2 separate regions of the Homo sapiens genome follow, and region 1 is linked to region 2. The links come from fine-mapping of genetic effects on gene expression. Tissue or cell type: blood mononuclear cells. Region 2 holds a variant in brackets; the other region holds the start of a gene. All regions are shown on one strand. Distances are between the middles of the regions.

Region 1 (8,103 bases), 31 kb before region 2:
GAAAACTTTGTGACCTCAGATTAAGCAAGATTTCTTGGATACTAAAAGCACAATCCATAGAAGAACAAACTGATACATGTGACTTGAAAACTTAAAACAATTACTCTTCAAATGGCACAGTTAAGAGAATCAAAAGACAAGTTGAAGACTAGGCAGAAAGTATTTGCAAGGCGAATATCTGATACAGGACTTGTATCCAGAATACATAATAAACTCAAATACTCAATAATAAGAAAATAACCAACCCAATAAAAATGAGCAAAATATTTAAATAGACACTTCGTCAACGAAGATACATAGAATGGCAAGTAAATACAAAGATGCTTAGCATCAGAGGGAAATGCAAACTAAAACTACAATGACACTCCACCACACACCCACAAGCACAGCTAAAGTTACAGACTGAGGACACCACACGCTGGTGGCGGAGTGGAACTGGAGCTCCCATACACTGCTGGGAGAGACGCACACGCTGGTGGCGGAGTGGAACCGGAGCTCCCATACACTGCTGGGAGAGACGCAAAAGGGGCAGTCACTTGCAAAAACAAGAAATTCCGTACAAAGTTAAACATACATTTTCCATATGACCCTGAGAACTTACTTCTAGATAAAGAAGTAAGCAGAACTCACCTGAGAGGAGTAAGAATATATGTCCAAACAAAGGGTTATTCACAAATGTTTACAGCAGCTTTATTTAAAACAACCCAAGGCCAGGCGCGGTGGCTTATGCTGGTAAACCCAGCACTTTGAGAGACCGAGGTGGGTGGATCACCTGAGGTCAGGAGTTTGAGACCAGCCTGCCCAACATGGCGAAACCCCGACTCTACTAAAAATACAAAAATTAGCCAGGCGTGGTGGCAGGTGCCTGTAATCCCAGCGACTCGGGAGGCTGAGGCAGGAGAATCGCTTGAACCTGCGAGGTGGAGGTTGCAGTGAGCCAAGATCGTGCCATGGCACTCCAGCCTGGGCCACAAGAGTGAAACTCCGTCTCAAAGAACAAACAAACAAAAAACCCCAAACATGGACACCCAAATGTCCATTAACTGGTGAATGGATAAAACAACTGTGGTATACCCATTCTACTAGGTAATAAATTACAATCACACTGCGTTGTGCATGAATCTCAAAAGCACTGTCCTAAGTGAAAGCCAGATACAAAAGACTATGAAATACATGACTGCATTTAGATAAGGTTCTAGAAATCGCAAAATATAGTAACAGAAAGCAAATGGGGGACCGCCAAGGGCTAGGAGTCAGGGGAGAGGGCTGACTGCAAAAGTGGTCATGGCAATTTCGGGGGTGGTAGCAATATTCTACCATTCTACCAAGAAAGATTCCATCTTGACCGTGGTGCCGGTTACGTAACTGCATGCATCTGTTAAAACTTCCTGAAGTGCACATTATATGTAGACTCTATCTCAAAGCTGGTAAGAAAACATCATCCACTTACACTTCAGACAAAGAATGGATGTATGTACACCAAACTGTCAACAGTAGTTTTCTTTGGGTGGTAGGAGTATAGGTGATTGAAGTCTTCTTTTTTGTATTTTTTATAATTTTTACAATGCAGTCACTTGCATATCCAGAAAAAAAGTTTTTTTAATTCAAGCCTTTTAATAGAAATAATTGTATGACACATCGTGACCTAAAATATAGATATTAGACTACTGAATGAATGTTACTTTACAAAAAGAAGACACCAGAAAAAAAGTCGCTTATAAATAAAATATCCAAGTATGGTAAAATGTACTTTTTTGTTACTTCAGAAACGGAACACCATCACTTTGAATTAAATGCTACCAAATCTGTTTGAATACCTTAAAGGCAACCACTAATCACAAAACACAACAGAGAACAAAACCACTTTTTCTGAATTTTGAATTTTTTCAAAATCTGTTTGAATATCTTAAAGGCAACCATTAATCACAAAACACAACAGAGAAAAGACCCTCTTATTACTGTGGCAAGTGACACAGTCATGAGTTTTACATATAACGAGAAAATAATTTGCCGTATACTTGCAAAATATGAGTCACGTGGCTCCTAGAAACACACCTCCTTCTCTTCCGTAATGGGATAACTTTAAATATGGTTCTAAGCAGCTTAAGCCTGAAAACAAAAATTCCACCACGGCAATAAACAAAACCACTTGTTGCCTCTGGGGCTCCCGGCCCTGCAGTGGAGGCAAACGCCCTGCCTTTCCGCTCCCCGGCGAGAGCCTGCGAGGCACCCGGAGCGGCCGCCCGGCCGCGTCTGCGTCACGCGGGGCAGGAGCGGCGTCCCCAGCCCCGGCCGCCGCCTCACCTGGTAGAGCTCCTCGAGGTTGTACCTGATGGAGGTGCTGCTCTGCACGGCCCGCACCGCCTCGTGCAGCTTCCGCCACGTGTCCTGCGTGTAGTTGTCGGGCAGCCGAGGTCTGTCTGCAGGGCGGAGGGAGAGCGGGCGGCTCAGGGCGCGCCGCGAAGCGCCCCGCGTAGCCACCCCCGACCCGGCCGGCGCCCCGGCGCCCCCGCTCCCGGGGCCCGCACGGATCTCGGGGCCTTCCCCCCAAGTCGGGCGGGGTCTCGTGGGGTCCCCGCCCGGGGCGCCTGGCCCTCGACCCGGCCGCCGCACCCACCTCGGAAGTTCTTGATGACCAGCTTCTTGGAGCCGCCCGCGCCCCCCGGCTTGGCGGGCGCGGCGGCCAGGGCCGCGGGCTTGGTGAGGCCGTTGGTGCGGCCCACGAGCGCCGAGAAGCTGCCCTTCCGCGGGGCCTCGTCCGCCATGGCTGGGCCGGAACCGCCGCGCCCCGCCCCGAGCGCCGCCGCCCGCCGAGCTCCGCTCCGCCCGCCCCGGTCCGCGCGGCCTCCGCCCCGTCCTCCTCGCGCGCCCCGCCCCGCCCCGCCCGCGTGCCCGAGCCCAACCGCCGCCGCGCCCGGCTACTCCTGAGGGCTTAGGAACGCGCGCCGGGAATCCCTCCTGAGGGATCGGACTCCCCCTAAGAGATTCGGACACCCCCTCCTGGCTCGAGGGCGCGCGCCGGGACTCCCGTCCTGAGGGATCGGGACCCTCACCCCCGGCTCCGGGGGGCGCACCGAGACCCTGCCCCCAGGGCTCCGGGCACCCCCTCCTGGCTCGGGGATGCGTGCCGCGGGCACCCCTCCTGAGGGGATCGGGAGCCGGGACACCCTCCTGAGGGCCCCGGGGCGCGCGCCTCCTGAGGGCTCGGCACCCCCACCCCGGGCGTGAGACCACCTCGAGGGCTCAGGGGTGCGCGCCGGGACGTGCCCTAACTCCTGCAGGCTCGGGAGCGCGCGGCGGAGGCACCTTATGAGAGCTCGGGAGCGCGCGCCATGTCCCTCCCCCTCCCCCTCCTCGGGCGCGCGCGCCCCGAGGCCCTGGCCCAGCCAGGCGCGGAGGGTCCTCCGCGGCCTGGTTTTCACAAGGGGCAGACGAAGGGTCAGCGCAGTGAAAGGCAGTTTAGCCGTGGGGCTGTCCTCGCCACTGGACCCCAAACCCCTCAGCCCGGGCGGGCCCGAACACACAATCAGAGCCGCTGGCGTCCCGGCTGAGAGGACGGGGCCCCGGCAGAAAGACCCCGGGCCCCCTCAGCCCGAGCGCGTCGCCGAGCCGGTCCCCAGGTTCTCCCTCCGGAACCAACCTGCGCACCCGCGGCGGGGCCGGGGGCGCCAGGACCCAGACGGACCGAGGGCCGGAAGTGACGCCAGCTGGCCCGCTTGAGGCGTAGGGGGTGGCGCTCTCCGTTCGGCGGCGCTCCCATGGCGCACATTACCATTAACCAGTACCTGCAGCAGGTGGGTCCTAGCCGGGGAGCGCGCGGCGGCGTGGTTGGCCCTCGGCGTGTTCCGTGTGTCCCCTCCTGCCTTGGACCCTCAGGCCTTTTCCTTTCCCGCCTCGCCACCCTTCTTCCGTTCGGGTCCCCGGCGGGCAGCCGCGCGAGCCGAACAGCGGCGGCCGGGACTCGGGAAGGCGGCCCGAGTTCTCCCCTGCAGGGCCGCCGTGGGGGCCGGGCGGTGTCCGTGGATCGCGGAGTCGTCGCGGTGTAAGTAGACGCGGCGGTCCCAGGTCGCTGCCCTCACTTGCTGGCACGTGTGGCCGCGCTCCCAGGCGGTCCGAAGGGCCTGCGGGCCACGCCGAGGGCCCGCTGTGGGCGGTGCTGTGTCGGATGGACGCTGTTTCCCAGCAGGATGCGGGATGAATTCGGGGACTCCAGGAGGCGATGGAGGAGTAAGCGCGAGGCTGTGGCCGTGCTGCAGGCCGGGCTCGTGCCCCTCGTCCTCGCTGTCGTTTAACGCCCTTCACTCTCCGAGCACAATGCACACTTCATATCGCTCGGTACATGCGTCTGACAGATGTTGTTCAACAGCTTGTAAGTAGCAGAAGCACAGTTAAAAGATGGACACTTGTAAAGATTCAACGCATATTCTTTCCACTAAACTATGCCTGTCTTCAGAACCAGCACTGTGGTAACAGGGATAGGAAATATAGGGAATGGATTTTTAAAATATTTGAAGGAAACATTACCAAGACGTGGTGAATAAGAATGGGTGGGCTGAGGGACACGGAGGAGTTAAGAATGATTCCCAGGCTTGTAATCTGGGAAAAAGATGAATAGAGTGGATTTGGAGGGAGAAATAAAGTTTTGGGCATGTTGAGTTTGAGGTGTCTGTTGACAACTGGGTAAAGATACGTACTTGATAGCTGAAAAGTCTGACATGATTGGGCCCAGCAGTTGCTTGGTTAATTGAGAAAACTGGTTAAAACAGGAATCACGAAGAAATGGATGTATGTTTTTAACTTAAAACATGAAAGTATACATTCACTTGCCAATTTTTTTTTTACACCACTTACCTCAAGTTCTATACTTGCCAATCTTTTGATGTAAGCCCAGGGCCTTTTCTTTAGGCTGTGTCTGTTTTGGCCTAATCTTAGCAGACTTAACATTTTCCAATATCAGTTTATTTAAAGTTAAACAAGGATATAGGCATTTAAGAACCAATTTGATACGATTATCTTTAGAATTTTCTTAATCTTTTACAATTTTTCCCCCATACCTAATTATTTTTTTAACAAACTCAAGTGAGCCTTTTAAAAACATACAACTTAGCTTATAGAGAAACAACTGTTTCCTTTTGCATTCATATTTCATTGATGAGCTTAAAAGTACATAACTACCATAACAGGTTCGGGTAGCAAAAATAGATTTGAGAACAAACACATCTGGATATGAGAACACATACAACTTAGCTGGCAAAAGCTTGCGATGTATTAGAGTGAAGCCTACTTGCTGAAAGTCGTCATCATACCTTGGGCATCAGCTCGTGTATTTCAGGGAGGGATTGGAGAGAGTCATTTTTCCAATTCAAGTCAGTTAAAGTGAGACTGATAAGCGAGCTTCTACTCTATGTGTGTAAACTGAAGTTTAAACAGACAGATTTGGGTTAAAGATACAAACCTGAGACTCCTTCGTAGTCACATGATGGGAAAGACTGAGAAGGGAAGGGGTGACCCAGGGAACAAGTAGAGAGAGTAGACAGGGGCTGGGCCCAGGATGGACTTCTATGGAGATGTGCATGCCTACATCTCCGCAAAGGGCAGTGTAGCCACTGGGGTGAGACAGCAAAAAGTCCGCTTCCTCCTAATTCTGATGGATAAAAATATTTCTGGTTGAACTGGCATGTTACCTAAGTTTTATGTATTAACAGATTCTTGAATATTTTAAGAAAATAGGTGCCTCTTCGATACAGAATGGCAACCGGTTATACATGGTAACACATGTTTGATTTGTTGTATAGGAACATAAGTGCCAATGTCACTGTATCTCTTTGGGAATAAAACCATCATTTGCACATTCATCAAAGCTAGGAAGTTGGGGGAAATCATTGACTCCTCCTTTAGTCTCAGCAAATAGTCCTTTACCTAATTGGATGTATCTCCGAAGTCTCTCAGATCCATCCCTTCTTTATCTGTTGCCACATGCTCCCCAGCCAGGACGCCCTGCTGCAGGTACTGGTTGATGGTTTCCTTTACTTTGCCCTTTCCAAGTGAGACACAGCAAAGAGACCATAGACTTTAAAGACAATAAGACTTCAGCCCAAATCCTGGCATTTTTACTAATTCTGGGACCATGACAAGTTATCTAACTTCTGTGACTCTCCATCTCTAAACAGGCTTCACATAAGTTGTGAGAATTAAAAAGACCATGAATTCACAGTAAATGCATTTACTTAGTAAATGATAGTTCTGGTATTTTATTGAAGAAGAGTTGAGCATCTGCCTCTGTTACTAAAACTTCATTGACTCTCTGTTTCCTCCAGGGAAAGTTCCAAATGCTTTAGCACATCATCTGGTCCATGTTTACCTGTTAACTTGGCATCACCAGTCTGAAGGTTTATTTCACTTATGCTGAATGCACCATTGCCCCACCGAAGTACTCATAACTTAAAATATACCATTTAACCATTTTAAAGTACACAATTAAGTACATTCACAATATTGCACAACCATCACCATTATCCAGAATTTTTTGTCACCCCAAATGGAAATGTCATAAGCATTAAGCAGTCACTCCCTGGTCCTCCCTCCCGAGCGCTTGTCAACCGCTAATGTGCTCTCTGTCTGTATGGATTTGCTGACTCTGGTGATTTCAGTATGTGGCTTTTGTGTGTCTTTCCCTTGCATCATGTTTTCAGGGTTCATCTGTGTTGGAACATGTGTCAGTGTGTCGTTCTTTTTTATGGCTAATGATATTCCATTGTATGGAGTATTTTGTTTATCCATTCATCAGTTGATGGACCACTTCAGTTGTTTCCTCTTTTTGGCTGTTGTGCTGCTGCTGTGAACATTCTTGCGCAGGTTTTGTATTCTTTTTGGCATATACCTAAGAGTGGAATTGCTGAGTCATATGGTAATTCTGTGTTTAACTTGTTAAAGAAATGCCAAAGCAGCTAGCTGCATCATTTTACATTTTCACCAGCAATGTATGAGGGTTGCAATTTCTTCACTTTCTTGTCAATGCTTGTTTTTTTCCATTCTTTTTATTATGGCCATCCTGCTGGGTGCGGAGTGGTATCTTCTTGTGGCACCCCATGATCTTTCTTGTCCCAAAGATTTTCTTCATTATGTTCCTTTTGCCAAGAACACCTCTCTTTTTTACAGGTGTAGTGAACATCTTTATTTAGGGAATCAGCTTTGAGTTAGATACTTTACTCCTTAATCTTCAGTAGTTCTTCATATTGTCTTTCAAGAGTTTATGGAATTGGAAAGTTTGACTATTCAGAAGTGACTTCAGAGGTTCATGACCTGTAATGATTTTGAATTTTTAAAAGAGTTATGAGTTCCAAGAGTAGATGGTGCCTCCTGTGGACCAGACTGGAGGGCGTGAGGGGCATGCAGCAACCACAAGGAAGTCTTCCTGGGGCCAGAGCCAGGGAGCATCCCCTGGTGAGCCAGGCCTGGGGGTGCCGCTCAGAAGGTGCTCACTTGGAGTCTGGTTGTGTGGTCCCATTGAGGGCTGAAGGCTCTGCAGCATGAGCTGTTAAGAGTTGGCCAGGTGGCTGGGCTGCTAGGGGTCCTGTGTCCACTGCGGCGCCAGTCGCACCTTTAGGGCTTGCAAGTACCGTCCGTTGCCATCCCTGCTTTTCCTCTTCACATCCCCAGTCTTCTCACAGTTTAGTCATTGAGGCAGGGGCATTGATAGGACCACCCCTGGGACACATTCATGCCTGCCAAGCAAGCTGGGGCCCTCCTTGGGCTCAAGGCCCTGTGGCACTGAGCCCTCCTCTGGTCAGGTCACCCGTGGGACACTGGGTGCAGCCCAGGTAGGTGTGGCCAAGCAGAGCCCAGGATGTGGCGACATCACCCTGCATATGTGCAGGGACCACCCTGGGAGGTCACAGGCAAAGGAGGGCTACCAGTGAGTGCCCCCAGCAGGGGTCTCCGCCTCTCCTTGGAGGGCCCCGGTGTCTGTACTCCAGGGTTTGATCCCTTCGTGACCACTGTGTCCCCAGTGTGTTTAGTCATTGAAGTATGCTTCCATTCCACAGTGCTTGCTCCAAGTCTGGGACTCTCAGCTTTCAGTCACTCATAGGTTCCTTCTGCAGA
Region 2 (8,103 bases):
GCATTGTGTGTGGCCCAAACCCAGAGCTTCATGCCTTACGCCTCCAGGTCCTTCTAGAAAAGCTCTCCCTGTGTCTTGTTTCCCTTAAAAGTATTTAACTCAAGAGTTTAACGTTCATGTGACAAAATAAGTACGTATCATTTGTATTCCTCCCTTAAAACCTAAGTTAAAAGCAGTGGATTCACCAAGAAAGAAAAATGTCATTTCACCCTCTCTGTGGGTATTTCATTTAGTTACTAAAATGTATTTTTGATACTTGAAATAACTGGTAAGTTAATTGACTAATGAGAAAAGCATTGCACACAGGTGGCTAAAGCTTCTGTAGCTCTGAATGGATTGTGATGGAGAAGCGCTGCTGTGGCCTTGCCCTCCTCACTTCTCACCCCATTTAACTGACAGCCAGTTTCAAATGCTTAGCTGATTCTTCTGGAAGCTACTTCCGTATGCCTACATCTCATGCTTATACTAGCATTTCTTCAGTTATCACTCTCCTGTTATAGAAATTCGAAGAAATGTGAGAAGGTCAAGATCAAGGTCACGTGTCATGGAATGACAAAAGTGTGTTGTACCCAGGTGTTCTGATTTCTAGACCTGTGTTGTTTTCCTAGTGTACTATGATGTGTTTAATCCATGGACATTCTAAGAAACTCAGGTTGCAATTTTCTTAAAACTTAATTCCTTGATATGAATATTTATCAAGGACAATTTTGTCAAAAATGAAAGCATTTTCATTCTGGAAAATTGACTCTTAGGGTCACATGCCCACTGTGGAGCTCCTGAAAAAGTATCACCTGATGCAGTTTGCGGAAGTAACCAGAGCTGTGAGGTAGAGTATGCCATCCTTCCTGTTTGGGGTTTTAAAAATGCAAGCCTGATGAGAGTTGACGTGCACGCTCTGTGAGAAACTCACCCTCCTTCTGACGCGCCTCCCCCCTCACCAGCGAGGGCAACCTGCTGCTGCTGCACGAGGCGCTGGCGAAGCACGAGGCCTTCTTCATTCGCTGCGGAATCTTCCTCATCCTGGAGAAGCTGAAGATCATCACCTACAGGAACCTCTTTAAGAAAGTGTAAGCATTTCCCCGGCACATTGGGCTCCCAGTGTGGCTCTCGGCAGAGCAGTCAGACATCCAGGGCTGTTGCAGTCTAAGAGAGAAGGCCACCGTGTGGGTGGGGTCGTTATCTTCCTTCCATTGTGTGGGATAAAATGAAGCCTCCGCCCACTGCCTCCTGGGGACCCTGCGCGAGACACGTGAGTAGCACAAGCTGTGCCTGGACTTGTGGGGGAGGTAAGCAGGTTCTATGTGAGAAGACAACTTGAGAACATCAGCCCTGAGAGCCGCGGTACCACATTTCATCAGAGCACACAGGACTCGCCACTCACTCCCCTCCCTTAGTGCTGACCAAGTAGCCCTCCCAGCCACTTCTGCCTGTCACAAAGGCAGATGCAGAGATCGTCATTCCTTTCCTCACACGTCTTCTGAGGCCTCGTCCCAGCAGGATCTCAGTTGTGTAAACTTCAGGCAAAGGCCAACTTTGTATAGAGCTGTGGGTAGCACGTCACAAACAGTAGGGACCCTATTTCGCTGAGTCTGTGAGACACAGCCCATTGTCAGGTGCTTCCTGATTTCAGGGAGATTAAAATGTGAAAAAAAAAACCGAACCTTAATGAAATACTTAGAAAATAATTAAAAATTGTGTTTGTACTAGTGACTTTTTAAAGATTGAAAAGTCAAATTAGATTTAATAGCTCTGAGAGTGTAGTTTAGAGTTTATCTAATAGGTGGGAATTTTTTTACTCCTTTAGAACACCGGCTTATTAAGAGGTGCCTTTTCTTGGCTGTGGAGTATTGCATCCTGTCGGTAACCACAGTGCCCTTCTCCTCCCCTCTTCCAGGTATTTGTTACTGAAAACACACCAGCTGTCTCTGGATGCTTTTCTGGTTGCCTTGAAGTTCATGCAGGTGGAGGACGTGGACATTGACGAAGTTCAGTGTATTCTGGCTAACTTGATATACATGGTGTGTGAGTCCTGGTTTTAATTTAAGCAGCTACTCACAGCAAGATTCAGCCCAGAATTTGAAGCTTCAGTGTGGTGGTGTTAAAATTGTTAAAAGGCCTTCTGCTTTTTTTTTGATAGAACTAATTTTAGCCCAGGAAATACCATTCACCAGGGCCTTAGGAGCATGAGGGGACGGATACTCTTGTATGTTTGCATATTCTTTACTGGCGGTACATCCCTCGGTATCTGTCGATTCTCCAACCCCCCTCGGATACCAAAATCCACAGGTGCTTCAGTCACTGATAGGACGTAGTATTTGCATATGAGCTATGCACGTCCTCCTGTATACTTTAAATTATCTCTAGGTTACTTAAAATACTCAGTGCACTGTAGATAGCTGTTGTACTGTATTGTTTAGGGAATCACGGCAAGGGAAGAGCGTCTGTACGTGTTCATTACAGATGCATTTTTTTTCCCCAAATATTTTCAGTCCACAGTTGGTTAGATTCATGGATATGAAACCCACCGTGGATATAGAGGGTTGATTGTATTTATTTTTACTCATTGTCTTCCCGCTGAACTGAACTGTGCCGCTCTTGGGGAAGAATGCTAATGCCAAATTAATTAGATCACCCAGCATCTTTGACATGACTCAGATCCAAAAATGTAAACGCATTCCTCCCTTTCTGCCCCGCAGGGACACGTCAAAGGCTACATATCGCATCAGCATCAGAAGCTGGTGGTCAGCAAGCAGAACCCATTTCCTCCCCTGTCCACGGTGTGTTGAAAGTACACGGAGCCCCGAGGACGGGTGAGCAGTTGTTTCTTTCCACTTTGGTTGTGCTGATGAGACCGGTCCGGTACTGCAACAAGGCTCCCTGAAGCCGGAACTCTTGGAGGCGCTTTTCCCAGGGATGCTGAGGCTGAGATTTTCAGCACACCCGAGTTAATCTCCTTCATTTGTAACTAATTTCAGCCTGATGAAAACCTGGAATTCCTTTTTCACAGACTCGGCTGGTTCTGGAGTCTTTGTGAGACTTCTTTGAAGGAGGCTTTGCGTGAAGGCTGCTCGGCTCACTTTTCCTAAGTGTGGTTCCTGAAGGCTGTCTTTGTAACTTTTTGTAGTTCTTTGTGTAAAAAGCGTATTCTGAATTTATACACATGGCATGTTCTTCATTATATCTTCCAGGATACATCTATTTTTATATATTAAATTTGAATGTGTTATCAAAATGCTTGGTTAACTTAAGGCACCTTTTTAAAAGCAGAATTTAATTTGATTTAAATTTTCCAGATTTTATAGCTTGCCTGTATGGATGCTCCTCAATTTATGATAGGGTTACATCCCAATAAACTTATTTTATTTGCCTTTGCTTTGTTGGTTAAAAAAAAATTTCTTTTAAAAAACCATCTTAAATTGAAAATACATTTAATACACCTGCTACTAAACATTATGGCTCACTCTAGCCTTCCTTAACATACTCAGAAGCCTCCACTCTTAGGCAAAATCAAACACAAAGCCGATTTTATTTTATAATAAAGTGTAGATGCCGGGCGTGGTGGCTCACGCCTGTAATCCCAGCACTTTCAGAGGCCAAGGCAGGCAGATCACCTGAGATTGAGAGTTGGAGACCAGCCTGACCAACATGGAGAAACCCCGTCTCTACTAAAAATACAAAATTAGCCGGGCGTGGTGGCGCATACCTGTAATTCCAGCTACTCAGGAGGCTGAGGCAGGAGAATCGCTTGAACCCGGGAGGCAAAGGTTGCAGTGAGCCGAGATCATGCCATTGCACTCCAGCCTGGGCAACAAGAGCGAAACTCTGTCTCAAAAAAATAAATAAATAAAAATAAAAGTGTAAATACCTCGTGTAGCTTACCGAGTGCTACACTGAGAGTGGAAACTGAAGGGCTGCGTGGACGCTGAGGCATGGCTGCCCCTGAGCGCGTCCCTTCGGCACCACGGCGAGGTTGACAGTCGCTAAGTTGGGCCACTCACATTGGGCTGTTGGGGCTGCCATCACAGAATACCACAGGCAGCTTAAGCAACAGGAATGTATTTCCTCACAGTTCTAGAGGCTGGAGGTCTGACTGAGATGGGGTTGCCAGCACGGTCGGCTTCTGGGGAGGGCTCTCTTCTGAGTTGCACACTTAAGAATAAGGTGGTATTCTTGCTGTGCTAGAGATGGTACAGATAGAGATGACTCTCTCCCTCCTTTTTTGAGACAGGACCTCACTCTGTCACCCAGGCTGGAGTGCGGCAGTGCAGTCAGTGCTTACTGCAGCCTCGACCTCCGAGACTCAAGTGATCTTCCCTCCTCAGCCTCCCAAGTAGCTGGGAGCACAGGTGCATGCCACCACACCCAACTAATTTTTTTATTTTTTGTAGAGACAG[C/G]GTCTTGCTAATATTGCACAGGCTGGTCTGGAACGCCTGGGCTAAAGCAATTCCCCCACCTCGGCCTCCCAAAGTGCTGGGGTGACAGGCATGTGCCACCACACCCGGCTCTCTTCCTCTTATAAGGCCACAGTTCTGTTGGGTTAGGACCTCACCCTTATGACCACATTTAGCCTTAGTTACCCCCTGAAGACCTTACCTCCAGATACAGTCACACTGGGGCTAGGACTTCAATGTAAGAAATTTGGGGGACACAGTTTAGTCCCCAGCACTGCCATTTTTCAGACTATGCACATTTCCCCGTTTATAAAAAATTTACTAAAGAAGAACACAAACTATAAGAGCTCATCTTTGCAAAGTTACTGCATTTGAAAGCTGCTTGTTCAAGGAGAGGCTATTCTACAAAGTGTGAATCCCTCTTTCTCTCTCTCCGGGCCGCGCGGCGCAGGACTCACTTTGTGTGGCTCCTTCCTCAGGTTCCCCTGGATGCAGGAGCTGCCCCAGGGCTTCAGCAGCACTCCTTAGCTCGCTCCTACATCTGCAGGTCTGCAGTTTCTTCCGGGCTGGGCGGGGAAGCTTGTGGGCTCTTCTGGGGCCCGAATGGGCCTCTTTGAAGGTGACTCATTCCCGTGTATTGGCCCGGGCTCTCACCTGGAGCTCAGCAGGGCTGTGGGTGGGCTCCCCTGTTTCTCTCCACACGTAGGGAGCTGGATTCTGGGAGCGCAGATCCCAGTAGAGCCAGGGAAGCCAGATCTCTTTTATGCCCTGCTCTCCTAAGTCACACCCGGATTCCAGCCGTGGACTGCCACACGTACACGCGAGAGATGAATGCACGAAGGCAAGCGCCTGTGCCTGTGGAGTTCATGCCAAGGATCCTCTTGACCTACGTAGCTGCTCCCCAGCAGCAGCAAGGTCCTCAGCGCTGGCAGTCGTGACAAGTGCCTCCTATGTCCTGTGGGGCAGACACGGAGCAAACTCATGCCGGCGGAGGCTTTGGGCGCGCATCTGTTTTCTAGCTACCCATGTGTCCAGTGGGGCCCCGTTCTCTTGCAGTGTTGGGTACGGAAATCTGATCTTCCCTGCTGCTCTGCATGGGCCTTGAACATCCTTCAACTTTTGACTTAAATGATTTTCTTGCAGTAATTTGAATATTGGAATTTCTGCCAGCATACCTGAATTTCATTCTGGATGTAATAGCGGTGGAAAGCTCAGGTTTGTCAACATTTCTGGGTAACGTATTGAACCGTCCATAGTGACACCTAAAGTCAAGGATTGATACTTTAAGGTAATTGGATGGTTATTCTTAGCGATGAAAGAAACAACCTCAGTGTAGGTGTCCTTACGTTTACCTCTTGGTGTTCAGGCCTCTGTCAGTTCGTTCTCACGCTGCTATAAAGAACTGCCCGAGACTGGGTAATATGTAAAGGAAAGAGGTTTAATGGACTCACAGTTCCACATGACTCGGGGGACCTCAGGAAACTTACAATCATGGCGGAAGGGGAAGTGAGCATGAGCAAAACTGCCACTTTTAAAACCATCAGCTCTCGTTAGACGCCCTCACTGTCACGAGAACAGCGTGGGGGAGCCGCCCCCGTGATCCAATCACTTCTCCACACGTGGGGATTACAATTCAAGATGGAATTTGGGTGGAGACGCAAAGTCAAGGCCTGTGTCCAGCATGGCAGCATTCAAGTCCACGGGCGTACACATGGGCATGTATCAGTGTGTTTGCATGGATTCAAATATTGGACTTAATAATCTCTGCCCAAGTGTGAACTAGTTTGGCCCTTTTAAAACATCATCACAGGCTGGACGTGGTGGCTCACATTTATGATACCAGCACTTTGGGAGGCTGAGGCCAGTAGATTGCTTGAGCCCTGGAGTTCGAGACCAGCCTGGGCAATATGGCAAAATCCATCTCTGCAGAAAATACAAAAATTAGCTGGGCATGGTGGTCCACACCTGTAGTCAGGAGGCTGAGGTGGGAGGGTCAATTGAGCCCAGGAAGTTGAGCCCACTATGAGCTAGGATCGTGCCCTGCACTCCAGCCTTGGGTGGCAGACAGAGACCCTGTCTCAAAAAACAAGAAAAACAGTCATCATAGCTAGCTTCCCTTTTCTTGAGTTTTACTGTTTTGTTAGATTTGTTTATGGTGTAGTTTCTAAGCATGTCATTAAATGCCAGTAGAGTAGTTACTTCATTTTGAAGGCCCCTCATGTCTCTGCTGACAGTCTGGGCCTGTAGCTTTCTCTGATTGTTCCTGATTTCACAGATTTCACCATTACGGAGGGAGGGTCTTCATATGCTTTGCCTCTGCCCAGCTGTGTTTGAAGTAGGTTTTTTTTTTTTTTTGAGATGGAGTCTCGCTCTGTTGCCCAGGCTGGAGTGCAGTGGCATGATCTCGGTTTACTGCAACCTCTGCCTCCCGGGTTCAAGTGATTCTCCTGCCTCAGCCTCCTCAGTAGCTGGGATTACAGGCGTGAGCCACCACGCTTGGCAAAGATTTTTTTTTTTTTTGTATTTTTAGTAGAGATGGAGTTTCACCATGTTGGTCAGGCTGGTCTCGAACTCCTGACCTCGTGATCCGCCCGCCTCAGCCTCCCAAAGTGCTGGGATTACGGGCGTGAGCTACTGCGCCTGGACTGGAATAGTTTTCAAGCAGGGCTTCCACTCTAGTAAATCCAAATTTGTAATAGAAGTACCAGAAGCAAGATTGCAGACATTTCTGCAGCATTATGTACAGAAAGCCTGCCATGTTCATTAGCTGATTTTAAAATCATTAGTAGGCATTTAAAGCAGTGACTTACTTACCTTATTGTAGTTTGAGAATAATACAACCAAACTTCACTAAGACTTTAAAATTCACCCTAGTGAATTTTAAACTGCCCTCCCCATTAATTTGCCTTAAATTACAGTGTTGCTTTTTGCCAAGGACCTTTCAGAGAAATGGGCCATTTCATCTACAGGTTGGAGAAAAGTTTAATTCTGGGGTTAAAGCGTAAATGAAAGAGAGTGTGCTGAAGAACAGTAAGGCTTAAAAACCCAAGTTATGTGTAAATTGTTCTCAACTCAAGAGAATATTTGTCCACCTACATTTTTAATTCCTCTTTTTAAAAGTCCTCTCTGCTCTTCAACGATGCTCTGCTCTGTGTCACTCAAGGACACTGGTGGAGAAGCAGCTGTGCCCCTTCCTTAACTAAGAGTTAAAATGTGAACATTTATGCCATTTCTGTCCATTTCAGTGCAAATTCAGACCCTGCTAGGAGCTCCAGTCTCCAAGGACGTTTCACTGGGGGCTGGACTGCAGCTCTGTCTTTGGTACTTGCATTGCAGCTGCAGCCTTCATGACAGCAGGTGTTTACTGTGATTCAGCACGTGCTGTCCTGGTCTGTTCTACAAAATACCATGGACTGGGTGATAACAGAAACTCATTTCTCACAGATCTGGGGGCTGGGAAGTTCAAGATCTGGGTGCCGGCAGATTTGGTGTCTGCTGAGGGCTCTCTGTCTCCAGGGTAGCACCTCACTGCAGTGTCCTCGTATGGGAGAAGAGATGGAAGGGGCTGGCAGAGCCCTCATGGCCTAGTCACCTCCCAAGGGCCCCACCTCCCCATATCATCATCTTGGGGTAAGTTCCAATTTTGGAGTTTTGAAGGGACACACACTCCAGCCACAACAGTGCTGGGCGTTGCCCTAGCTGCCCATCAGCC

What was found. PIP is the estimated chance that this variant, and not a neighbour inherited with it, causes the effect.
Region 1: it holds the start of PCID2, and the variant in region 2 is fine-mapped to the expression of PCID2 in blood mononuclear cells (TOPMed, PIP above 0.99).

What each region holds. Positions count from the first base shown.
Region 1 is chr13:113,204,290-113,212,392 of GRCh38, reverse strand. PCID2 (PCI domain containing 2) reads left to right here and starts at 3,724. Exons shown (of 14, transcript NM_001127202.4): 1 at 3,724-3,794. The coding sequence starts at 3,759. It overlaps CUL4A (cullin 4A), which reads right to left and starts at 2,780. Exons shown (of 20, transcript NM_001008895.4): 1 at 2,618-2,780; 2 at 2,305-2,420. The coding sequence starts at 2,765. RefSeq lists silencers at 2,285-2,524, 2,585-2,914, 3,015-3,284, 3,545-3,834 and enhancers at 3,369-4,018, 4,019-4,669.
Region 2 is chr13:113,172,881-113,180,983 of GRCh38, reverse strand. PCID2 (PCI domain containing 2) reads left to right here. Exons shown (of 14, transcript NM_001127202.4): 11 at 753-826; 12 at 942-1,067; 13 at 1,895-2,018; 14 at 2,697-3,448. The coding sequence ends at 2,786. Among named protein-coding and RNA genes, the nearest start is that of PROZ, 18 kb to the right of the region's middle. RefSeq lists an enhancer at 7,699-8,103. The variant C/G (reference allele first, on the strand shown) is at 4,395.